3 separate regions of the Homo sapiens genome follow, and regions 2 and 3 are each linked to region 1. Evidence: fine-mapped expression QTL. A gene starts in region 1. Each other region holds a variant in brackets. All regions are shown on one strand. Distances are from middle to middle.

The links. PIP is the estimated chance that this variant, and not a neighbour inherited with it, causes the effect.
Region 2: its variant is fine-mapped to the expression of VRK3 in monocytes after LPS (Kim-Hellmuth 2017, PIP 0.95).
Region 3: its variant is fine-mapped to the expression of VRK3 in whole blood (TOPMed, PIP above 0.99). The same link has a PIP of 0.9 or more in esophagus muscle and pancreas.

The regions. Positions count from the first base shown.
Region 1 is chr19:50,021,196-50,029,372 of GRCh38, forward strand. VRK3 (VRK serine/threonine kinase 3) reads right to left here and starts at 4,177. Exons shown (of 15, transcript NM_016440.4): 1 at 4,072-4,177. ZNF473 (zinc finger protein 473) reads left to right here and starts at 4,810. Exons shown (of 5, transcript NM_015428.4): 1 at 4,810-4,927. RefSeq lists enhancers at 3,483-3,984, 4,034-4,113, 4,454-4,503, 4,914-4,963.
Region 2 is chr19:50,808,229-50,816,405 of GRCh38, forward strand. It overlaps the pseudogene TMEM277P. Among named protein-coding and RNA genes, the nearest start is that of SNORD88C, 9.9 kb to the left of the region's middle. The variant C/T (reference allele first, on the strand shown) is at 4,688.
Region 3 is chr19:50,067,183-50,075,359 of GRCh38, forward strand. ZNF473CR (ZNF473 cis regulating lncRNA) reads left to right here. Exons shown (of 5, transcript NR_138096.1): 3 at 509-618; 4 at 7,943-8,011. Among named protein-coding and RNA genes, the nearest start is that of ZNF473CR, 21 kb to the left of the region's middle. The variant G/A (reference allele first, on the strand shown) is at 4,809.

The sequences.
Region 1 (8,177 bases):
TGTGGCATTTGTATTTTCCAAAGCAGGTCACATGACTATTTCTGGTCCTGTGTGCTCTTTGGAACCTTGTAACCCCTCCTCCCAGGAGTCAGGGTCTCTGTTCCTCCCCCTTTGGATCTCGGCAGAGCTGTGACTGCTCCTACCAATAGAGGACCGGCAGCAGTAAGGCCATGAGACTTCCCAGGCTGGGTCATAAAAAACAACTTGCACCTGGCTGGCTCGCTCAGGATGCTCACCCATGGAAGCCAGTTTCCACGGCATGAGGCAGCCTAAAGTAGCCCAGGCAGAGAAACCACATGGAGAGGCTCAGGTGGAGAGGAACTGAGGCCCCTGGCCAACAGCCACCATCAGCTGCTGGGTGAGTGGGCAAGTCCTCAGACCACTTAAACCCCAGCCTTCAAGTCTTCCTGCTAAGGCACAGGCACTGGGGAGCAGAAACAGGCCACCTCACTGTGCTCACTCTGAATTCCTGGCCCATAGGATCCATGGGCACAAGAAATGGTGGTTCTACACCAGTGAATTGTGGGACGATTTGTTCTCTAGACATAGTAACCGGGACAGGGAGTCCCTGCTGCACAGAGAGGTCAAGTCACTCACTTAAGACGGTTCTCATTTCATGACAGTTCAGTATGTGCAGACCACTGTGCTAAGTTCTCGGCAGGTATTATCTACAGAACCTTCCCAATCACCCTTTTCAAGGTAAGAATGATTTCCCCTTTGGGGAGATGAGAAGCAGAGGCTCAGAGAGCAAATGACTTGCCCAGGGCCACAAACCTCTTAAGCGGCGAGCCAGACACATGATTTTGTTTAATCTTTCCCTCCACTCTATGAGGTAGGGATGATTATCCCATCTTTGAAACCTACAAAATGATGCTCAAAGGGTGACAATTCTCCTTCCCCCAGACCTGACTCCACTCACCTAGAAAACAGTGGGGACGCAGCTGAAATCCAGAACCCAAAAGCCCATGTTCTTCACCTGGTGCCAATTTATACAACGAAAACGCAAAACCGGACTGGGTTCTTGGGGCAGCAGGTCAGAACATTCTTGTAGATTTAAATCTGGAAGCTGATGTTGGGTGTGGAACCACGGCAAGAGAGTCTTTTAACCATGTGCCACCCCCGGTTCTGACACCGTCACCAGCCTGGTCTAGGCCACCATCTCTCCCTTGTGCTACTGCAGCAGCCTCCTAACTAGACTTTCGGCTTCTACGCTTGTCCCTACAATCTATTTTCAACCCAGTAGCTTGACGGATCCACTTAAAATCTAAGTCAGACCCTGTCTGTGTCCCTGCCCTGGCCCATATGGTGGGTCGGACACGGTGGCTCACGCCTGTGATCCCAGCACTTTGGGAGGCCGAGGTGGGCGGATCACGTGAGGTTAGGAGTTCCAGACCAGCCTGGACAACATGGTGAAACCCCGTCTCTACTAAAAAAGTACAAAAAAAAAAATCAGCCGGGCGTGGTGGTGGGCACCCGTAATCCCAGCTACTTGGGAGGCTGAGGCGCAAGAGTCGCTTGAACCTGGGAGGCAGAGGTTGCAATGAGCCAAGATTGCACCGCTGCACTCCAGCCTGGGCAACAGAGCAAGACTCAGTCTCATAAATAAACAAATAAATAAATAAAATGTAAGTCAGACCCTGTCCCTCCTCTACTCAAAACCGTATGGTGGATTTCATTTTAGACAGAATAAATGCTGAAATTCCTACCATGGCCCAGGAGCCCCCTGTATGATCTGCCACTTCCCTGTTCCCTCTCTGACCTCTCCCACCTCTCCCCTTGCTCACGCTGAGTCAGCCACAACAGCTTCGGTGCTTTTCCCCAATCGTGACAAGAACGTTTCTTCCCCAAGACCTTTGCACCTGCTCTCCCATCTGCCTGGAACGCTGTCCCCCTAAGAGTGCACACAGTTAACTTCCTCATCACATTCTTTAGCTCTCTGTTCAAATGTCACCTTCTCAGAGACCTTCTTGGACACGATTTTACTGTGTTTTTTCTTTTCTTTTTTTTGAGATGGAGTTTGGCTCTTTTCGCCCAGGCTGGAGTGCAATGGCACGATCTCGGCTTACTGCAAACTCTGCCTCCCGAGTTCAAGTGATTCTCCTGCCTCAGCCTCCCATGTAGTTGGGATTACAGATGCGTGTCACCACGCCTGGCTAATTTTATATTTTTAGTAGAGATGGGGTTTCACCATGTTGGCCAGGCTGGTCTTAAACTCCTGACCTCAGGTGATCCCCCTCAGCCTCCCAAAGTCCTGGGATTACAGGCTCGAGCCACCGTGCCTGGCCCTGGACACCATTTTACTAATAGCATGTTTTATCCTCCTTACCTTGCTTTATTTTTCTTCACAGTGCTTGTCACTACCTGACATACTCTGACTTACTAGAATGTAAGCTTCATGATGGCGGGGACTTTTCCCTGCCTTGTTTGCCACAGTGTGCCCAGAGCCTCAAACAGGCCTGGCACAGAGCAAATGCTGGGTCTACGTCTGCTGAGTGAATAAATCATTGTCTCCTTTGCAAAAGAAAATGTGCCAAGAAGGTGGGTGGGGGGGGTCCCCAGCTGTGTCAGTACACATTCATCTCTCAGGCAAATCTAGACATCCAGCCAGAGACTCAAAGCTCAGGGCCGGAATTATCTAGCTGGATGGTCCCTAAAAAAGACGTGCCACTTAGAAGCAGATCAGTACAGGGGTTAAGAGGATAAACTTGGGAAATAATCTGCCTGGGTTTGGATCTTGCTTCTGCCATGTATTGCATGATGGACAGAGTTTTGCTATGTCACCCAGGTTGGAGAGCAGTGGCACGACCTCAGCTCACTTGCAACCTCCGCTTCCTGGGTTCAAGCGATTCTCCCTGCCTCAACCTCCCGAGTAGCTGGGATTACAGGCGCATGCCACCATGCCCGGCTAATTTTTTTATTTTTAGTAGAGATGGGGTTTCACCATGTTGGCCAGGCTGGTCTCGAACTCCTGAACCCAGGTGATCCGCCCACCTCGGTCTCCTAAAGTGCTGGGACTACAGGCGGGAGCCACCGTGCCCAGCCAAATTTTTTGGATTTTAGAACCTATTACATATTACAACACCGGCGAGATCCAGGGGCAACTCTCCATAAGTATATGATTTGCACAACAAAATCTTTAAAAATTCTAAATAGTCACACATCAGTTCAGAGTGGGTATTGCCAGCAAACAAGTTCAAAGCCAGGTGAGGTTGGCCTGCCAAGTAAGTTGCAAAACAGAGAAAAAGACCTTTCAGTTTTCAGAACGTTTTGGATTTTAAAGTTATAGATAAGGGACTGCAGACCTGTAAATATTCTTTAACATTTCTTTTTTAGTGTCTGGCATCCCCAACCACCCTGAGAATGTGAATTAGCTGGGCAGGATTTTTGTTTTAGACACTGCTATAATAACCTGGGCTTGAACAGTGCCTATTAGACTAGCACCGTTCAAACCCAGGTTATAGTAGTGTAATATCGGTTGCACGGAGCCTTCCATATAGTAAACGCTCAATAAAATTGGATGTGCTGAAGTCACCTATGCAATGGCCAGGTCAGGACTTGAAACCCTAAGACTCCAACCCTCAGGCCAGTCTTTATCTTAATTTATTTGACTTATTCAACAAATGTTTAGGGAACAGCTGCTATGCGTCAACTACTGTATAGTGTTCCTCCTAGAAAGTTCAGGAAACAGCACAGCAAAAAGGCTAAAAGTCAGACCCCACCTCAGCGCAGGTGGGGCGATTGCCTAGGCGACGACAGAGCCTCCCTTCGGCCGCACCTCCATAGAAACCACGGGATGACTTAGACGCCAAGTTTCACAGCGGAGGAGCTGTCGAACTTCCCACAAGTTCCGCCCATCTCCGCCTTAGCCATGCCCAACACGGAGCCCAAGGTGGCTTGGGAAGCTCAAGAGGAGGCCAGTGAACCCCGCGACCCGGAGCCGCTCTCATTCCGAACCCCGACAGCAGGGGCCTCCGCCTCCCACAAACGGTCGTGCTGACGTCACGGACGCCCCGGCCGAGCTGCGGCTAGGGGGTCGGGGGACGTCCCCTCGTTCGCCTCGCTTCCCCTCACCTCTGTACTTGGGGACTGGGGTGGGATTCTGGGCTTCTGCAGCCTGACCCTCGGATCCTCCGCAGTTACCCGGACTCACCTTCTCAGTTGCCCAGCGAAAACTTCCGCTGGGCGGAGAGCGCTGCGCGCGCATCCTGAATCTGAGGCGCCCGCGCAGGCGCCGCTGACTTCCTGACGGCCCCTGGGCTTCGCCTGCCTGGGAACTCCGTTTCCCAGATGCCTCCGCGGCAGGCCCGCCCTCTGATTCCAGACGGAATGGGGATTATTCCCTCATTGCTCATCCCCCTCCCCTCCGTTCTAGCCGCTTTGGAACGCCTTCTGGTTCTACTGCGCATGTGTCAGTGTCAGACCAATCGGAATGCACCGTGAGGTACCTCTCCACCAATCAGAGGTCACATTACCTAAACTTCTGCCTCAACTCCGCCCCTTACTTCCGCTTGTTTTCTCAGAAACCCGTCACAACGCGTTTCCATGGCAACCTACCGCTTGCTCTTCGGAAAAGGTTAACACTCCCTGACTTCTAGTAAAGGCAAGAAGCTAATTAGATGATTCTTTAACAAGGTAAAAATCTGGACTACAAACTGATGCCGCCTGGTCCTGATTCTCTTTCTACTCTACTCCCACAGTGCTAAGGCTGAAGAAGCAGGAGGAGATGGGAAGGCGAAAGAAGTCGCCCGCACAGCCCTCTGGGAAATAGAGTCCTGGCGCTGCCGCGGAGGATCCTGGGTGCAGCCGCTCAGAGAAGCTTCTCGCGCACAGGAAGTCGCTGCGAGGAGGCGCGTGTGCGGGGAGTTGAATCTCCCGCTCCCTTGAGGCTGGGGTTGCGTCTGTTGACGCGGCCGACTACAATCCCGAGGTACGGAGACGCTGGGGCTGAGGGACTTGCGGGCTCGGTCCTTCCTGAGAGGTGACGGAATGCAAGTGGGGGCGACTTCGGCAAAGGGTGCGTCGCCTTGGGCGGCGGTTGTCAGGGTGAAGGTGTGAACCGTCTTTCACAGTCTGTTATGAAAACCGCTCAAGGTCTGGGCACGGTAGATCACGCCTGTAATCCCAGCACTTTGGGAAGCCTTGGCGGGGGGGATCACTTACAGCCAGGAGTTCCTCGAACCCCCAGTCTCTACTAAAAATACAAAAATTAGTTGAGCGTGGTGGCGGGGGCCTGTAATCCCAGCTACTCAGGAGGCTGAGGCAGGAGAATCGCTTGAACCCAGGAGCTGGAGGTTGCAGTGAGCCGAGATCGCGCCATTGCACTCCAGCCTGGGTGACAGAGCGAGACTACATCTTAAAAAAAAAAAAAAAAAAAGAAAGGAAGAAAACCACCTTGGGAGGCTGAGGTGGGCGGATCGCTTGAGCCCAGGATTTCGAGGCTAGCCTGGGCCAGATGGTGAAGCCCTGTCTCCACAAAAGAAGAAAAAAATAGAAAAATTAGCCGGGCGTGGTGGTGCGCCCCTGTATTCCTAGCTAATTGGGAGGCCGAGGTGGGAGGATTGCTTGAACCCAGGAGGCAGAGGTTGCAGTGAGCTGAGAAAGAAAAGAAAAGAAAAGAAAACTGCTAAAGGGGTTTCCAGGCCTCCCTGATGGCCCTGAGAGGAGTGGTTCTGTTTTATTTTGGTTTTGGTTGGGGAAGGAGGGGAATGAGTTACCTGAAGTTGGCAAATTTAGGCAGAATCTTGCTGGACGATGGATGGGAGTTCTTCGGGAAGTTGAAGTACTTAACATTTACAGTATTTGAGTGCTTTCTGTGTGCCAGGCGCCCTGCTGGAGTTGCATTTCCTCTTCTGATCCCCGCAGCAGCACTGAGACATAAGTGCAGGTCCCCTTGGCACCAAGGCAATCTCGGGAATCAGAATTTTTCAGATTTTAGAAAGCTAATAGGGTGCATATTTTATAATTAGGCAGCACCCCCCCACACCCCGAGGAATCTGGGCCAGTTTTTGGTCATAAAATGTTTCTGTGGGGCAAGGTGTGAATATTCACACTTATGAGAACATTAAGACCCTACATGGCCTGTGGCAATCCAGGTGAAGTTTTGCGGTCAGTTTATAAATCAAGTTCTGGTTTTTGGAGCATTTAAAGGACCATAGATCTGTTGTATTTGTTCCATTTGGTACATGTGGAAACTAAGGCTTAGAGAAGGTAAATGGTCTGGAAGGAAGGGCAAGACTCTTGGGCCCAAGGTCTCTCAGCCTGATAATTGTTTGGCTTAAGTCACTCTGGGCTGGATGACCTTGGGCTCCACCTCTGGGCCCTCGTTTCTTTCCTCCCAGAGCTGAGAGTATATGAGATGTGGGCAGAATGTGATTTGGTAACTGCAGACAGGGATCTCAAGCTCAGCTGTCTGTGAGGGCCAGGCAGATGACATACAGGAAAGAAGAGAACTGGTCCAGGTGAGGCTGCGGGGCCTTGGGGAGCACTTGCCTCATCTGAAGGGGAGAATTGTGTTTTTTTTTTGATGACAGAGTCTCGCTCTGTCACCCAGGCTGGAGTTCGGTCTCACTGGAACCTCCACCTCCCCGGTTGAAGCGATTCTCCTGCCTCAGCCTCCCAAGCAGCTGGAATTACAGGCGTGCACCACCATGCCTGGCTAATTTCTGTATTTTTGGTAGATACGGGGGTTTCACCATGTTGATCAGGCTGGTCTTGGACTCCAAACTTCAGGTGATCCGCCTGCCTTGGCCTCCCAAAGTGCTGGGATGGCAGGCATGAGCCACTGCACCCAGCCGCTTTTTAAACTTAAATTTAATTTTTTTGGCCGGGTGTGGTGGCTCATGCCTGTAATCCCAGCACTTTGGAAGGCCGAGGTGGGTGGATCACGAGGTCAGGAGATCGAGACCATCCTGGCTAACACGGTGAAACTCCGTCTCTACTAAAAATACAAAAAATTCTCCGGGCGTGGTGGCAGGCGCTTGTAGTCCCAGCTACTCAGGAGGCTGAGGCAGGAGAATGGCATGAGCCCGGGAGGCAGAGCTTGCAGCGAGCTGAGATCGCGCCACTGCACTCCAGCCTGGGCGACAGAACGAGACTCCGTCTCAAAAAAAAAAAAAAAAACAAATTTAATTTTTTTTTGGAGGCAGGATCTTTCTCTGTCATTCAGGCTGGAGTACAGTGACACAATCATAGCTCACTGCAGCCTTGAACTCCTGGGCTCAAGTGATCCTCCTACCTCAGCCTCCCAAGCGATCCTCCTACCTCAGTCTCCCAAGTAGTTGGGACTACAGGCACGTGCCACCACAACTTGCTCATTTTTAATTTTTTTTTTTTAGAAACAAGGTCTTGTTACGTTGCCCAGGCTGGTCTCGAACACCTTTCAGCCTCCCAAAGTGCTGGGATTATAAGCATCCCCCACTTGCCTAGCACTGGTGGGGGAGCTTTAAATGGGCACCAGTGAACTAACTTCGTGGGATGTAGACCCAATGTTGCCAAATCCTAGGATGTTTCAGAAGTTGGAAACATAATTTTTAGGTGAAATTTCCCAATTTTCAAGTTTGAGACTAGTGAGCCATGCTTGAATTTTCTTTCAAAACATTCTGTCTGCCAACAAACATTATGGGCCAAATATCTGTCAACTGAGTTATACTCGTAGGTTGAGGCTTAACCTCTGACATGTAGAAAAACTCATTGTTCAGTAGAATTAGCATTTATTGTAGGTCTACCATATTCCCATATTTGTAGTCTCAAAAATCTGGACAACTCAGAACAACAAATTTTTTTTCATAAATTTAGTGTCCGTGCCTTACCTGAACTACTACAGGGTATTTTTTAAATATAACTTTAAATTATTCTACCTAGAATGAACGATGATACTTTTCTCTAGGGTAAAGTGTTCAATTATGAAATGCAGCCTGATCCACACTGCGCTGGGACTTTGTTTTGTTTTGTTTTTGTTTTTGTTTTTGAGACGGAGTCTCGCTCTGTCGCCCAGGCTGGAGTGCATGGCGCCATCTCGGCTCACTGCAAGCTCCACCTCCCGGGTTCACACCATTCTCTCGCCTCAGCCTCCTGAGTAACTGGGACTACAGGCGCCCACCACCATGCCTGGCTAATTTTGTTATTGTATTTTTAGTAGAGACGGGGTTTCACCGCGTTAGCCAGGATGGTCTGGATCT
Region 2 (8,177 bases), 790 kb after region 1:
GGGCACAGGAGATGAGACACAGAGTTCACCCACCCAATCCCAATCACAGTCCTGTCCCCAGGCCCAATTGCATGCCCTGCTCTGCATCAAACCCCATCCCCAAACCTATTCTTAAACCCATCACCAATTCCATTCCATACCCTAACCTATTCCCAAACCCATCTCCAAACCGAAACTCACCTTCATCCCCTACACTGTCCCTAACCCATACGCAAACTCCAACCCAGTCCCATCCCCATTATCCAGCCCCATGTGCATCCCCAATCCCGCCTCCCACTTCAGTCACTTCCTATCTAGCCCTGTCCACAACCCCACCCCGTCCCAAATGCTATCCCAAATGCTATTCCTGTCTGCATCCCTGAACCCATACCCAAAGCCAACCTCATCCTCTCCCATACCAGTCATCAGGAAGAGGAAGACACTGGCCCAGGTCAGGTAGAAGCTGAGTGCCAGCTGGTAGGTCATGCCTTCCTGCAGGTACCTGTGGGCCTGCAGCAGGTAGAACAGGATACCCAGTACGATGCTGGTTCCTGCATGAGCACAGGTGTTAGGAGGCTGAGAATCAGATATGTAAGGACTCCTTCCCATAGTCATGTGGCTGCCTGGCTCTGGCTCATTATTTCCCCACTTTCTTTAACCTCCCAGACCCTGTACCTTTGCTCCTAAGCATGAAGATGGGCTTCTGACCAAGTCCTGCTAGAGGACACTGAAAGGGCAAGCCTTGGGCTTTAACCAGGCAATGGTAAGTCTGTAACCACAGGTTTTGAGGCCAACAGCAGGGATCTTCCCTGCCTCCACCTCTGGACTTAGGGCAGCCATGCCATATCTCTGAGCCTCAGTTTCCTCATCTGTAGAGTGGGCACAATCATAGGACCCATCTCCTTGGGCCGTCATGAGGAGTTACTGAGGTTGGCACATTTCCTGATACACAGCAAGCCCTTAGGGATTGGGATTGATTATTTTCATTCTATTGGGTCTTTAATTTAGGGCTTCAGAAGCAATAGACAAGGAACTTGGTCATTCTGGATATATTGGAATGACATGAATTAAAGATAATTTGTGAATAGGAAAAGACTTTTTCCCCTGGACAGTGGAGTACTGGGTAGTTTTGTCTGATGTTATTGAAAATAATATAGAAGGTATTTTTTGTTTAATTAAAAGGAGGAATAGACAGAAATGGTTTTCTTATAGAAAAATGTTCTGTTATAGATGGTTTAAAACGAAGGTGTTTTTTATAGTTTTTAGAAAACTCATGCTTTTTTTGCGCAATATTCTATACCTTGTACTTTATATTTAAACAATTAGGAAGAGCTACTAGATAAACTGCATAAATGCTTTTTTTTTTTTTTTTTTTTGAGACAGAGTCTCAATCTGTTGCCCAGGCTGGAGTGCAGTGGCGTGATCTTGGCTCACCACAACCTCCGCCTCCCAGGTTCAAGCAATTCTCCTGCCTCAGTCTCCCAAGTAGCTGGGACTACAAGCGTGCGTCACCACGCCTGGCTAATTTTTGTATTTTTAGTAGAGATGGGGTTTCACTATGTTGGCCAGGCTGGTCTCGAACTCCTGACCTCATGACCCACCCACCTTGGCCTCCCAAAGTGCTGGTGTGAGCCACTGCACTCGGCCAAGTACTGACATTTCTAATTCAATCCTCAGTACGTTTCCATGTGGTAGCAAATTTTGTCCTGATCCTACAGATGAGAAAACTGTGGCTTGGAGAGATGAAGTAGCTTGAACAAAATCACAGAGCTGCTGCTGCTGATGGGACAGGATTTGGGATGAGGTTAGAATGGGAAATAGGATTGGGTATTGGGTAGAGGTTGAAGTTTGAGTGTTAGAGGACGAGGTTGAGAGTGGTGTCAGGAATAGGTTGCAGTTGGGATGGGTTGTGGTTGAAGGTGGGTCGTAGTTGGGGTGGGTTGTGGTTGGGGGTGGGTTATGGTTAGGGGTAAGGATGGGTTGAAATGGGGTAGTTTGTGGTTGAGGATGGGTTGGAACAGGGATGGTCTGGTTGGGGGTGGGTTGGGATGGGGATGGGTTGTGGTTGGGGATGAGGATGGGGATGGGTTATGGTTGGAAGTGGATTGTTGTGGGGATAGGTTATGGTTGGGGGTGGGTTGTGGATGGGATGGTTGTGGTTTGGGTTGGTTGTGGTTGGAGTGAATTGTGGTGGGGAAGGGTTGTGGTGGGGATGGGTGGTGGTTGGGGGTAAGTTGTGATGGGAGTGGGTTGTGGATGAGGATAGGTCATGGTTGGGGATGAAAATGGATTGGATATGGGTAAGAGGATGGAGTGGGGAATGGACTAGATTGAGTTTGGCATTGAAGTTCACAGGTGATAGAATTGGGTTGCATTTGAAACATATGTTGAGGATGGTTGGGATGCTGCAAAGTTGGTTGTTGAGATGTTTGAAGAGGTTGCGGATGGTAATGAGGATGGTTTGGTGATTGGAAAGAATGTAGAATTGGGATGGAGTAGGGGCATGAGGGAAAGGGATGTGAATGAGTTTGAGATTTGTTGGTGATGGAGATGGGACTTGAAGTGGAGGCTGGTATTGGGGCTGGAGATAGGGTTGGGCTGGTGGTTGATGTTTTTTATGGGAATGGGTTAGAGATTTGGAAGGAGATGGGGTTGGGATTGCGGATGATGGTCAGGATGGGGATGGGATTGGAGTGTGGTGGGGATGGGATTGGGTTTCATGATTGGCACTGGAGGAGGTACTCCTCGCCTTGGTTCCTGAGGGAAGTGCCATGCCTGTCAGGATGCTGGTGATGAAGGTGAAGAAATCCAGCATGGACGGGTTGGAGCCGGTAAAGAGGATGGTGCTTATTAGGGCTATGCAAAGGCAGAAGCTGGTGATGCTGGAGAAGAGGAGGAAGGCCCAGGAAAGGTCCAGCAAGTCTGGGGAAGGAAGATAATCAGGAACACCATGATTGGCCCAGGCTCTGAGTATGGGGACAAGGGTCACCAGTTGGTGTGGGAGTATTCTCAAAGCTCCTCCCTTGCAAATTATTTATTCTCATTTTAGGAAAATTTAAATTGGGCTCCAGAGAAGAGACATTGAGACTGATACTTCCAGCACTGAGGATCTACCTCTAGGTTGGTGAGGGCAGCTTCTTGGGCAGTGAGAAGTGGGGTGGGCAGTGAGGAGCATTCCCAGAAGTGAGGACCACTCTAGGGCTGTGAGGACAATCCTAGGGCAGTGAGAACCCTCTGAGGCAGTGAGGACCGTCCCAGTCATTGAGGACCATCCGAGAGAGTGAGGACTATCCCAGGGAGTGACGACCATCCCAGGCAGTGAGGACCATCTCAGGCAGGGAGGACCATCCCAGGCAGGGAGGATCATCCCAGGCAGTGAGGACCATCTCAGGCAGGGAAGACCATCCCAGGCAGTGAGGACCATCCCAGGCAGTGAGGACCATCTCAGGCAGGGAGGACCATCTCAGGCAGGGAGGACCATCCCAGGGAGTGAGGACCATCCCAGTCAGTGAGGACCATCCCAGGGAGTGAGGACCATCCCAGGCAGTGAGGACCATCCCAGGGAGTGACGACCATCCCAGGCAGTGAGGACCATCTCAGGCAGGGAGGACCATCCCAGGCAGGGAGGACCATCTCAGGCAGGGAGGACCATCTCAGGCAGGGAGGATCATCTCAGGCAGGGAGGATCATCCCAGGCAGGGAGGATCATCTCAGGCAGGGAGGACCATCCCAGGCAGGGAGGATCATCTCAGGCAGGGAGGACCATCCCAGGCAGGGAGGACCATCCCAGGCAGGGAGGACCATCTCAGGCAGGGAGGGCCGTCCCAGGCAGGGAGGGCCGTCCCAGGCAGTGAGGACCATCTCAGGCAGGGAGGACCATCCCAGGCAGGGAGGACCATCCCAGGGAGTGAGGACCATCCCAGGCAGGGAGGACCATCCCATGGAAGTAAGGGCCATCTCAGGCAATGAGGACCATCCCAGGGTGGTGAGGATAATTCTGGGGCAGTGAGGATTATTCCAGGGCAGTGAGGACCATCCTGGACCAGTGAGTACTATCCCAGGGCAGTGAGAATCATTCGAGAGCAGTGAGGAGTATCCCAGGGCAGTGAGGACTATCCCGGAGCAGTGAGGACCATTCTAGAGCTGTGAGGACTATCCCAGGGCAGTGAGGATTATCCTGGGGCAGTAGGGACTATCCTATGACAATGAGGACCATCCCAGTGCTGTGAGGACCATCCTGGGGCAGTAAGGACCATCTCAGTCAGTGAGGATCATTTCAGTCAGTGAGGATCATCCTGTGGCTGGGAGGACCACCCTGGGGCCGTGAGACTCATAAAATACCTGTGAAGATCATTGCAGGAAAGGAAGAAACCATTCTGTGACAGGTGGAGGGGTCCCTGGGATAAAGTGGAGCGATGGGTCCCAGGAGTGGTGAGGGCAGGGCAGGCCTTCCAAGCATCCTGGCTGTGCTCATGCAGGCAGGAGATGTCACAGCACTGCTTCTCCTCCCCCAGAAGTCTAGCTCAGAACTTGGCCTCCGGCCTGGGCACTGCCTCATACCTGCCAGAATTGATCTCAATGGAGCTGCACAATGAGAGGTTTTGCATGTTGTCTAGAGGACTTTGGTTGAGTTCAGAGCTGAGCACACTTGCCTTCAGACTCTCCTGGGACTCCCAGGTAACTGATTCAATGCTTTTGATACTGGGCT[C/T]GGGGCCGTAGGTAAGTGATGGGAGCACATTGACAATGGCCCAGGCTTGGAAGTTGGGGGTTGGAACACTTAAATGGGCAGTCTCGGTTGTTGACAGGTAGTTTTGGTCATGATCTTTGTTGCTGGGGATAATTGATGATTAGTCAGGGGGTGAGAGCCTTGGATACTGAAGCAGCGAGTTTGGAAAATTGGTGAAGCACCTCGCATACTGAAATCGTGGCTGTAGGTAATGGCTGGTGTTTCTGGGATACTGATCTGTTGACTGCTGATAGCTGGTGTAGGGTCTTGGATACTGACCTGGTGATTGTGAATAATTGGCAAGGGGTCTTGGATACTGACCAGGCGATTGCTGCTGGCTGGTGGAGGCTGTTGGATACTGACCCCGTGACTGTTCCTGGCTGGTGGAGGGTCTTGGATACTGACCCGGGAATTGTAGGTAATTGGCACCACCGTGCCTGGCTAATTTTTTTGTAATTTTAGCACAGATGGGGTTTCACCATGTTGGTCAGGCGGGTCTCGAACTCTTAACCTCAGGTGATCCACCTGCCTCAGCCTCCCAAAGTTCTGGGATTACAGGCATAAGCCACTGCGCCTGGCCCTTATTATTATTTTTTAAGGTATAGAAATCTAGAATTTTTTTTTTTTTTTCTGAGACAAAGTCTGGCTCTATCACCCAGGCTGGAGTGCAGTGGCATGAGATCTCGGCTCACTGCAACCTCCGCCTCCCAGGTTCAAGCCATCCTCTCACCTCTGCCTCCCACGTAGTTGGGACTACAGGGGAGTGCTACTATTCCTAGCTATAATTTTGTATTTTTTGGTAGAGGTAGAGTTTTGCCATGTTTCCCAGGCTGGTCTCGAACTTGTAAGCTCAAGCAATCTGCCCACCCCAGCCTCCCAAAGAGCTGGGATTACAGGCATGAGCCACTGTGCCCAGCCTTAGAATTTTTAGGTAGTTTAATTTCTTCACCTTTGTCTCTGTGACTTTATTAATTGCTTCTTGGCTTCGGGAGGTTCTCCCTCCAGATTTTTGATGAACATTCAGTTCTGTTTTTTTAAATTCTCATTACTTATTTTTAGGTTTTGATTGTGATTTTGGAGTTGGTATGCAGGGAACATTGAATTCTGTGCTCCCTGCTGTCCTAAGGAAGGGACTTGAATTAGTCAGGAGTTTTTGGGTCACAAGTGACACAAACTCTTTTTTTTTAAATTTTTTTTATTTTTTACTTTTTTAAATTTGAGATGGAGTTTCACTCTTTCACCCAGGCTGGAGTGCAGTGGCGTGATCTTGGTTCACTGCAACCTTCACCCCCCGGGTTTGAGCGATTCTCCTGCCTCAGCCTCCGGAGTAGCTGGGATTACAGGCGCCCGCTGCCATGCCCGGCTAACTTTTATCTTTTTAGTAGAGACGGAGTTTCACCATGTTGGCCAGGCTGGTCTCAAACTCCTGACCTCAGGTGATCCACCTGCCTCGGCCTCCCAAAGTGCTGGGATTACAGGTGTGAGCCATCGTGCCCAGCCACAAGTGACACAAACTCTAACTTGAACTAGCTTGAGTGAACTAGTTGTATTAGCTTGAGTGAACTAACTTGAACTAGCTAGGGGATCCTTTATGGGATCACCTGAGTGAAAAATGGTAATGGTAGGAATGCCTTCAGGCATGGGTGGATCCAGGGGCCCAAGTGATAGTATCAGATATTACTGTTTTTTGGCTATGGGATTGGCTTCATTCTCAAGGCTCTGTGTAGTGGCAAGTCAGAATCCAGTAAGGAAAATAAATCATTCCAGATTCTTCAGAAGGAAGTAAATACAGGGAATTTGTTCGTGAGTAACAGAGGAGCTGAGAAGCCAATAGGAAATAGTGAGGCAAACCAGGAGTTAGGAACTACAGGATGCTGCTACTTGGCCAGAAGGACAAAGGGAGGAGGTGGTATTACTACAGTCCAGAAACTGCAGCCCTCTGGAACGCATAGGTTCATGGTTGGATTGCTCAGAAGTGGCTAGAATCAGAGAATAGATACAACTACTACGGAAGACCCACCACATGCAGAGATAGAGAGGCTAATAAATACCCTGGCTTGCCCTCTCCTCCCAGAACCAGTCTTCTGCCAGTGCCTCCCATTAGTCAAACACAGTGATAAGATGGTGAGCAAAGGAGGCTGGGAAATGTGGTCCTTGCAGTGCAGAACAGGACAGGGCGGGAAATGGATCTGAGAGCAGACAGACAAAAAACTGGCAGAGTTGTTAGCAACTTGGCAGAGTTGGTAATAACTGCCGAGTCCGGTAGAAAAAAGTTATCAACAGTTCTTGCAAGAATCCTGTGTGGCTTGGGGCACATGAGCACCCCGAGCCAATTATATGGCCAGTGGAGTACAGTTGGCTGATTGGCTTAAGACTGGGGCTGAGAATGGGGAATGGGCAGGAGGTGAAATGCATGGTGGGGAGGTAAGCTGCAAATATCCACTCATTCTGACCAAATCACAGAGTGGGCTGCTCTCTGGGATGACGAGAGCCAGGGACTTCAGTGTCAGCTCAATGCTCTTTCGCTTGTCTGTTTTCCTTCTTAGTTTTACTCTCCCCATGAAGCTAGGTCCAAGGCTTAGGCAGCTTCAGGCTTGTAATCCTTGAGGAGAGACTGCTTTTCCTTGACAGCTTCCTAATAAAAAGTCTTGGGGCAGAGCTTGATTGGTTGGGCTTTGGTCATGTGTCCATCTTTGGGCCAATTGCAGGGTCTGCAGCTGGGGTACTGTGATTGGCTCAGCCAGAATCACATGATTACCTCTGTGGCCCAGAGGCCAGCATATGCCAGGAGAATCCCTCATCCAGGGTTATGTGAGTTGGGTGGAGGGTGTCCCCAAGAGATGTCAGGCTGCTGTTCTGGGCAGACCAAATTCACCATTCAAGGTCTTGGTTTCTGGCTTGGTGCCTTCTCCCTGACCTCTGCTTCTTGACTCTTCAATGAGCAGAAAGAACTAAGGGAACTGGCTGGGCATGGTGGCTCACACGTGTAATCCCAGCACTTTGAGAGGCCAAGGAGGGAGGATTGCTTGAGCTCAGTAATCTGAGACCAGCCTGGGTAACAGTGAGACCCCATCTCTATGAACAAAACAAAACAAAAACAAAAAACCAAGGGGTCTGATATTTCCCCCACTTCCCAGAGTGCTGTTGCTCTTCTGTATATATGATGATCCTTTATCTTTCTTGTTGGGTATTAGAGATGTGCAGTTTGCCAGAAACAAAGCAGATGAGGTCTTGGCCTATTTGGCTAAAACAATTTTGCACTGTTGAAAAGTAGACAAAGTAGAAAAAGGGCTAAAAGGAGGAGATGTAGCATCTCGGAAACAGGTAAACCTCTCTTCTGCTGGAAGTCTAAGTTGGATAAATATCCACTGTAAACTGGAACTAAGCTTTTGGGCACATTGGTTTTAGAGTATTTGACTTGAAAGTTTTTCTTGTGTGCAAATCTGTATGTGTTTTGTGGGGGCTCTCAGGT
Region 3 (8,177 bases), 46 kb after region 1:
AAGTGATCCACCCACCCTGAACATTTCCTTTTTTCTTTTTTAGATGGAGTTTCACTCTTGTTGCCCAGGCTGGAGTGCAATGGTGTGGTCTCGGCTCACTGCAACCTCCGTCTCCTGGGTTGAAGCAATTCTCCTGCCTCAGCCTCCCAAGTAGCTGGGATTACAGGTGCCTGCCACCATGCTTGGCTAATTTTTTGTATTTTTAGTAGAAACGGGTTTCACCATGTTGGCCAGGCTGGTCTCGAACTCCTGACCTCAGGTGATCTGCCCGCCTTGGCCTCCCAAAGTGCTGGGATTGCAGGCATGAGCCACTGCACCCAGTCCAGACATTTTCGTTTTGATGAAACTGTCTTGAATCACTGTAGACAAACATACCATCCCTGATTAAAACATGAAGTAATTACAATAGTTAGGGTGATACTAAAAAGTGAATGTCTATTAAGCGCAGATTACATGCCAGGCATGTTTCTAAGCTGGTTAAATGTAGTACCTCATTTTCACCCTTCAGGCAGGAAACCGAGGCACAGTCTAGTGTTGTGTGAGCAGGAATGGAAGAAACACGCAACACTGCAGGAAGTCACAGAGGGTGCAGAAATCAAAGGAAACTTCCTGGAGGAGGTGAGCCAAGAGGTGACTAGACTAGGGGTGAGGAGGAGATGAATTTTGGTTCAACAAACATGCCTGGCCAGGCACGGTGGCTCATGCCTGTAATCCCAGCACTTTAGGAGGCCAAGGCGGGTGGATCACGAGGCCAGGAGTTCAAGACCAGCCTGGCCAAAATGGTGAAACCCTGTCTCTACTAAAAATACAAAAATTACCCGGGCGTGGTGGTGGGCACCTGTAATCCCAGCTACTCAGGAAGCTGAGGCAGAGAATTGCTTGAACCTGGGAGGTGGAGGTTGCAATGAGCCGAGATCGCGCCACTGCACTCTGGCCTGGGTGACAGAGCAAGACTCTGTCTAAAAAACAAACAAACAAACAAACAAACAAAAAAACATGCCCAAAGGCCTCCCGGTCTCCCTGTGCCACTCCCTGGCACTGCTGGAGATACAGAAATGATCTGGACACTCCCCTGTGCTTGAGGGCGTCTCAGGCTGAAGGGGGAGGCAGACCTGGACACAGTTACAATCCAGGGTGACTCCGGGACTCCTTTCCTACAAGGATCCTGTCCTCCCTCTGTCTTAGGTGCCCAGGCCTATGGTCACAGCCTTCATCTCTGATAATGACACAAATCTCCACATCTTGGTGTCAGACACCCCCTCCCACCTCCCAGCCTCCCGGGGACTTTCTCCACTATACTTTATCTTATTATTTTAATTTTATTTTTTGAGACAGGATCTTGCTCTGTTGCCCAGGCTGGAGTGAAGTTGCACAATCACAACCCACTGCAGACTTGATCTCCCTGGGCTCAAGCCATCTTCCCACCTCAGCCTCCCGAGTGGCTGGGACTACAGGTGCATGCCACCACATCCCGCTAATTTTTACGTTTTTTGTAGAGACAAGGTCTTGCTATGTTGCCCAGGCTGGTCTCGAACTCCTGACCTCAAGCAATCCTCCCACCTCAGCCTCCCCATGTGCTGGGATTACAGGCATGAACCACCGTGCCTGACCTTTCTCCAGTTCTTGACTCCAGCTATCCTTCCATGGACAAGGAGGGTGCCCTAGAGCCTGGCTTGGTGGCTGGGTGAACCATGAGGTCTGCCTCTAACTGCCACAGTCAGGGGACAGAGGAGCAGGGACCCAGGACAGCTAATCTTCTGATACTGCAGCCCCCTCACCATGTATTGCCTCCCATGATTTCACCTTCCACTCTCCAGCCTGGCATTTACCACCCATCCCTGTAACCACTCCCCTGCCTGCACCCCTACCTGCCCTGTCCCTCTTGGCCTGCACTGAGCTCACCAGGTAACAGCCCTGCTGTGGTTAGAGCCAAACAGCCTCTGACCTGGGTGCTGGTGCCCAAGAAGGCATTGCCACTAAGGTCTTTTTTTTTTTTTTTTTTGGAGACAGTCTCTCTCTGTTCCCATGCTGGAGTGCAGTGGCACGATCTCAGCTCACTGCAACCTCCGCCTCCCTAGACAAGATCGTGCCACTGCACTCCAGCCTGGGCAACAGAGCAAGACTCTATCTCCAAAAAAAAAAAGAAGAAGAAGAAGAGGATACACAGACACGGAGGGAAGAGGCCACATGGCACAGACGCAGAGAAAGAAGGGAGGCGGGTACCAGCCAAGAAATGCCAGGAGGCACCAGGTGTTGGAAGAGGTGAGGAAGGACCCTCCCCTGGAGCCTTTGGAGGCAGCGTGGCCGAGCTGTCACCTTGGTTTTAGACTCTGGTCCAGAATCATGAGAGAACTGATGGCTGTTGTCATAAGCCACCACGTTTGTGGTTGTGCATTGTGGCAGCAGCAGGATACACTCCCCCATGCCCCTACTGCTCGTGCCCGTGAGCAGACGCATGTGCTGTCACAGATGCCATCTTAAAGACAACCTTCTGGCCAGGTGCCGTGGCTCACACCTGTAAGCCCAGCGCTTTTCAAGGCCGAAGCCAGCGGATCACTTGAGATCAGGAGTTCGAGACCAGCCTGACCAACACGGTGAAACCCTGTCTCTACTAAAAATTACAAAAATTACCCAGGCGTGGTGGCATGCGCCTGTAATCCCAGCTACTCGGGAGGCTGAGGCAGGAGAGTCACTTGAACCCGGGAAGTGGAGGCTGCAGTGAGCTGAGATCGCACCACTGCACTCCAGCCTGGGCAACAGTGAGACTGTCTCAAAAAAAAAAAAAAAAAAAAAAAGGAAAAAAAGACAAGGCCAGGCGCAGTGGCTCATGCCTGTAATCCCAGCACTTTGGGAGGCCAAGGTGGGCAGATCTCTGAGATTAGGAGTTCGAGACCAGCCTGACCAACATGGAGAAACCCTGTCTCTACTAAAAATACAAAATTAGTCGGATGTGGTGGTGCATGCCTGTAATCCCAGCTACTCGGGAGGCTGAGGCAGGAGAATCGCTTGAACCCAGGAGGCGGAGGTTGTGGTGAGCCGAGATCGCGCCATTGCATTCCAGCCTGGGCAACAAGAGCAAAACTTCATCTCAAAAAAAAAAAAAAAAAAAAAAGACAACCTTCCTGTGATCACCACAGAGTGAGGCAGTGGGGGAACAGAAAGTGGTGACACTGGGGAGAGTGTCAGGGCCAGGACACATACGGGTATGAAAGAGATGGTAAAGACAGTGCCCTGGGCTGGGTGTGGTGGCTCATACCTGGAATGCCAGCACTTTGGGAGGCTGAGGTGGGCAGATCACTTGAGGTCAGGAGTTCGAGACCTGCCTGGCCAACATGGTGAAACCCCATCTCTACTAAAAATACAAAAATTAGCTGGGTGTGGTGGTGCATGCCTGTAATCCCAGCTACTCAGAAGGCTGAGGCAGGAGAATCGCTTGAACCTGGGAGGCGGAGGTTGCAGTGAGCAGAGCTCGTGCTACTATACTCCAGCCTGGGAGACAGAGCGAGACTCCGTCTCAAAAACAAAAAAACAAAAAAAGTCAGTGCCCTGGACTGGCCTGGCCTGGTCTCTGGGTGGGCAGGGGTCTGTCTCTGAGATGGGAGACCTGAAGGAGGAATGAGTTTGGGGGTGACATGACCCGCTCAGGGGAGACAGGGAGTGTGGGGTCCTGAGCCTTCCCCATGGTGGTATTGTGGAGGCCACAAGCTATACAAGGTTGAAACTCATGGGACACATTGAAGGGACACCATTGTGGATGTGTGGAAAAGGGTGAACACAGCCGGCCTGAGATGCTCCCTTTGGAAAGTCCTGATGGCCAGGTAGACCCTAGGCTGAGGTCCAGCAACCTGGACTTTAGGAGGGTTCCCAGAATTTCCTAACTGATGTGGGGCTCACTAGAGCCTCAGTTGCTTGTGGTTTTAATTTTAATTTTAATTTTTTTTAGAGATAGGGGTCTCACTATGTTGCCCAGGCTGGACTCGTAATCCTGGGCTCAAGTGATCCTCCTCTCTTGGCCTCCGAAAGTGCTGGGATTACAGGCGTGAGCCACTGTGCCCAGCCCTAAACTGTTTGTGCAAACACCATGGTTTATGCTGAACACCTGCTTTTTTCCCAGGAGTCTAAAATTTGGGTACATTTTAGTAGAGGGGGCTGTGTGAGCAACCCCCAGGAAAAACCCTGAGCACAGCCGGGCACGATGGCTCACGCTTGTAATCCCAGCTCGTAGGGAGACAGAGGCTGGAGGATAGCTTGAGCCCAGGAGTTCAAGACTTGCCTGGGCAATATAGAGAGATCCTGTTAAAAAAAAAAAATGCTGAGCCCTGAGTCTCTGGTGAGCTTCTCTGGTGATAACATTTCCCATGTGTTGTCACCTCTTGCTGCTGGGAGAATTAAACCATCCTATGTGGCTCCACTGGGAGAAGGTTCTGGAAGCTTGGCCTGGTTTCTCCTGGATGGCGCCCCGGGTGCCCTTCCCCTTTGCCAGCTGTGCTGTCTCCTTTCTCTGTAATAAACCATCACTGAGCGTTTAACTAAGGGCTGAGTCCCTGGCACCCGCTAACAAATCAGTCACCTGTGGTGGTCTTGGGGACCGACCCTGATGGAGAAGTTTGGGCCACGTTTTTAATGAGACCACATTTTTTTTTTTTTGAGACAGAGTCACTCTGTTGCCCAGGCTGGAGTGCAATGGCGAGATCTCAGCTCACTGCAACCTCCGCCTCCCAAGTTCAAGTGATTCTCCCACCTCAGCCTCCTGAGTAGCTGGGATTACAGGTGCCCACCACCATGCCCAGCTAATGTTTGTATTTTTA[G/A]TAGAGATGGGGTTTCACTGTGTTGTCCAGGCTAGTCTCAAACTCCTGACCTCAAATGATCTGGCCGCCTCGGCCTCTCAAAGTGCTGGGATTACAGATGTGAGCTACTGCGTCCAGCCTAAGCCACATTTTTGATGAGTTTGTCCAGAGAAAGTGCGTGAGTGAGGAGGGCTGAGGATGGAGACGTCACATCACCACAGCTACTTACAGGGGAACATAAAGACGGAGAACGACAGGTCCAGGAAGGTGGGAAGTGAAACCAGCAAGGGGGCTGTGCTGAGGTGCAGGGGCAAGACGAGGCCTGGGCAGGGCTGGGGCCGTGGGGATGGTAAGGAGGGTGTAGGAGGGCAGGGCTGTGGCCTGAGGGGTCCTGTGGACAAGGGGAAGTAGGGGATGTTGTGAGCAGAATTGCTGGCATCCCCCTAAAATGCATAAGTTGAAACCTAGTCCCCAGGTGATGGTGTTAGGAGCTGAGGCCTTTTGGAAGCGATTAGGTCATGGGGGTAGAGCTCTCGTGGCAGGGGTTAGTGCCCTTACAAAAGACACCCCAGAGAGCTCTCTTGCTCCTCCACTCTGTAAGGCTATAGAGAGCAGCCTCTGTCGGCCGGATGTGGTGGCTCATGCCCGTAAATCCCAGCCCTTTGGGAGGCCAAAGTGGGTGGATCACTGAGGTCAGGAGTTCAAGACCAGCCTGGCCAACATGGTGAAACCCCCTCTCTACTAAAAATACCAAAAAAATTAGCTGGGTGTGGTGGCGGGCACCAGTAATCCCAGCTATTTGGGGAGGCTGAGGCAGGAGAATCACTTGAACCCGGGAGGTGGAAGTTGCAGTGAGCCAAGATTGCGCCACTGCACTCCAGCCTGGGTGACAGAGTAAGACTCTGACTCAATTAAAAAAAAGAAAGAAAAAAAAAAAGAGAGAAGGCGCCGTCTATGAACCAGGAAGCGCCCTCACCAGACACCAAGTCTGCTGTCGCCTTCATCTTCGACTTCCCAGCCTCCAAAACTCTGACATAAATTTCTTTCTTTCTTTCTTTCTTTTTTTTTTTTGAAACGGAGTCTCACTCTGTCACCCAGGCTGGAGTGCAGTGGCGCGATCTCGGCTCACTGCAAGCTCCGCCTCCCGGGTTCACACCATTCTTCTGCCTCAGCTCCCGAGTAGCTGGGACTACAGGCACCCACCACAATGCCCGGCTAATTTTTTTTATTTTTAGTAGAGATGGGGTTTCACCGTGTTAGCCAGGATGGTCTCGATCTCCTGACCTCGTGATCTGCCCGCCTTGGCCTCCCAAAGTGCTGGGATTACAGGCATGAGCCACCGTGCCCGGCCAACTCTGACATACATTTCTGCTGTTAGAAGCTACCCAGTTTACAGCATTTTGTTAGAGCAGCTCAAACTAAGCAAGTCAGGGCCGAGGATGGTGCCCGGGGGTCTGGTCTGGAGACCTGGGGGGATGTGGGGCCAACCAGAGGTGGGGACCTGGAGGAAGAGAAGCAGGACGGTGGGTGAACTGAGCTCGGCGTGGGGTGGATGTGAGGGGTGGGAGGTGGGGAGGGCTATGCCTGGAGGCAGGAAGGTGGGCAAGTGCAGGATCTCGGAGACACACTAGGGGACAGCGTTTATATGCTCTGGGGAGAAGATGCCGAGGTCAGATTGGGACCTGTTGATTGGGAACATGTCCGGGAGGCGCTTGGAGCCTGAGATTCTGGACTGGGCGTTCCAGTGTGGAGCCTGAAGTCCGGGGACAGGGAGGTCACCATGTGTGGAAGGGAAAGCGTTAGAAGAAGCTGGATGACCAGGCACGGTGGCTGACGCCTATAATCCCAGCACTTTGGGAGTCCAAGGTGGGCACATCACCTGAGGTCAGGAGTTCCAGACCAGCCTGGCCAACACAGTGAACCCGTCTCTACTAAAAATACAAAAATTAGCCAGCATGGTGGTGTGTGCCTGTAATTCCAGCAACTCGGGAGGCTGAGACAGAGGAATTGCTTGAACCCAGGAGGTGGAGATTGCAGTCAGCTGAGATCACGCCACTGCCCTCCAGCCTGGTGACAGAGTGAGACTCCATCTCAAAAAAAAAAAAAAAAAAAAAAAAAGAAGAAGAAGAAGAAGCTGGGGACACAGGCTGAAGAGTTTGCGGGACTCACATTTTACAGGACAGGCCAAGGGACTTGGGCCCTCCTGGCTGCTGGGACTCCAGGCAGAAAGAGAGGAAGGGAGAGGCCCCCAGAAAGAGAGGAAGGGAGAGGCCAGGCGTGAGGGACCAGTGAGAGGAGCACAGAGGCCCCCAGATGGCAGGGGATGGACATGAATGAGAAGAGGGTGCCAGGAGGCATCAGAGAGAGGGCTGGGGGCATCAGAGAGGGTGCCGGGGGCATCAGGCCTCCCCCGGGGGAGGGCAGAGGGAGGGGCCTCACCCAGGGAGAGAAGGTTCCAGTAGTTCTCCAGCATCACGTCTCCAGCAAACTTTCACCACATCACCAGATTTAGTCTGGCCCTGCTGTGGGCTTTTTTCCAGTGATCATGAGGGACCCAACAGCTGGGCACAGAACTCAGATTTGAGATTGGAAAAGACGGGGACTCTACTAAGGTGGATAGGATGGAGGCTACTCCCTCCTCCTGTCATTCACTCATTTATCCATTCATTAATTCATCCCACCAACCTTCCCAGGAGTTTCTGGTGAGCCACTGCCCATGTTGGGCAACGCTGGCGGCACAGAGTCTAGGCCGAGTCCTGACACTGCCCATGAATTTCAGCCCCTCATGCTCCCTGTGGCCCCAGAAGATCCTTCTACACCCAGAGCTTCCCCTCCCCTTCCTTGCTCACAGCCCTCCCGTGGCTCCCCAGTGGCCCCAGGACAGAGTCTCAGCCCCTCTGATACCATGCAGGACTTGCCCCACTCATCCCTACAGCCTCATCTCTCCTCGCATTTGCAGAGACTCCTCTTTTTTGTGCCTCCATTTCCCCATCTGTAGAATGGAATTGTAATACCATCTGTCCGTCACTTCAGGGCCAAGTGAGAAAGCGCATCCTAAATAATGAAACAGGATTGACGTCTTCTCCTGTTGATGATTAGCATCTGTTTCAACTCTCTGTCTCTCACTCCCGAACCTTCTGCACTTTCTCCTTTAGGAAAAGACTGTGACCAGCTTCACAAAAGGCAGCAAAGGACTATCAGAGAAAGAGAACTCCGAGTGAGGGGTAAGCAGCCTGGCCACAGGGAAGGGGCTGGGGGTGGAGATGCCTGCATCTGAGGGAGGAGGGGCTGGGGGCCTGGACTCCTGGGTCTGAGGGAGGAGGGGCTGGGCCTGGGACTCCTGGGTCTCTGGGTGGTGATGGAGCTACAGGAGGTCGTGGTGCAGTTCTC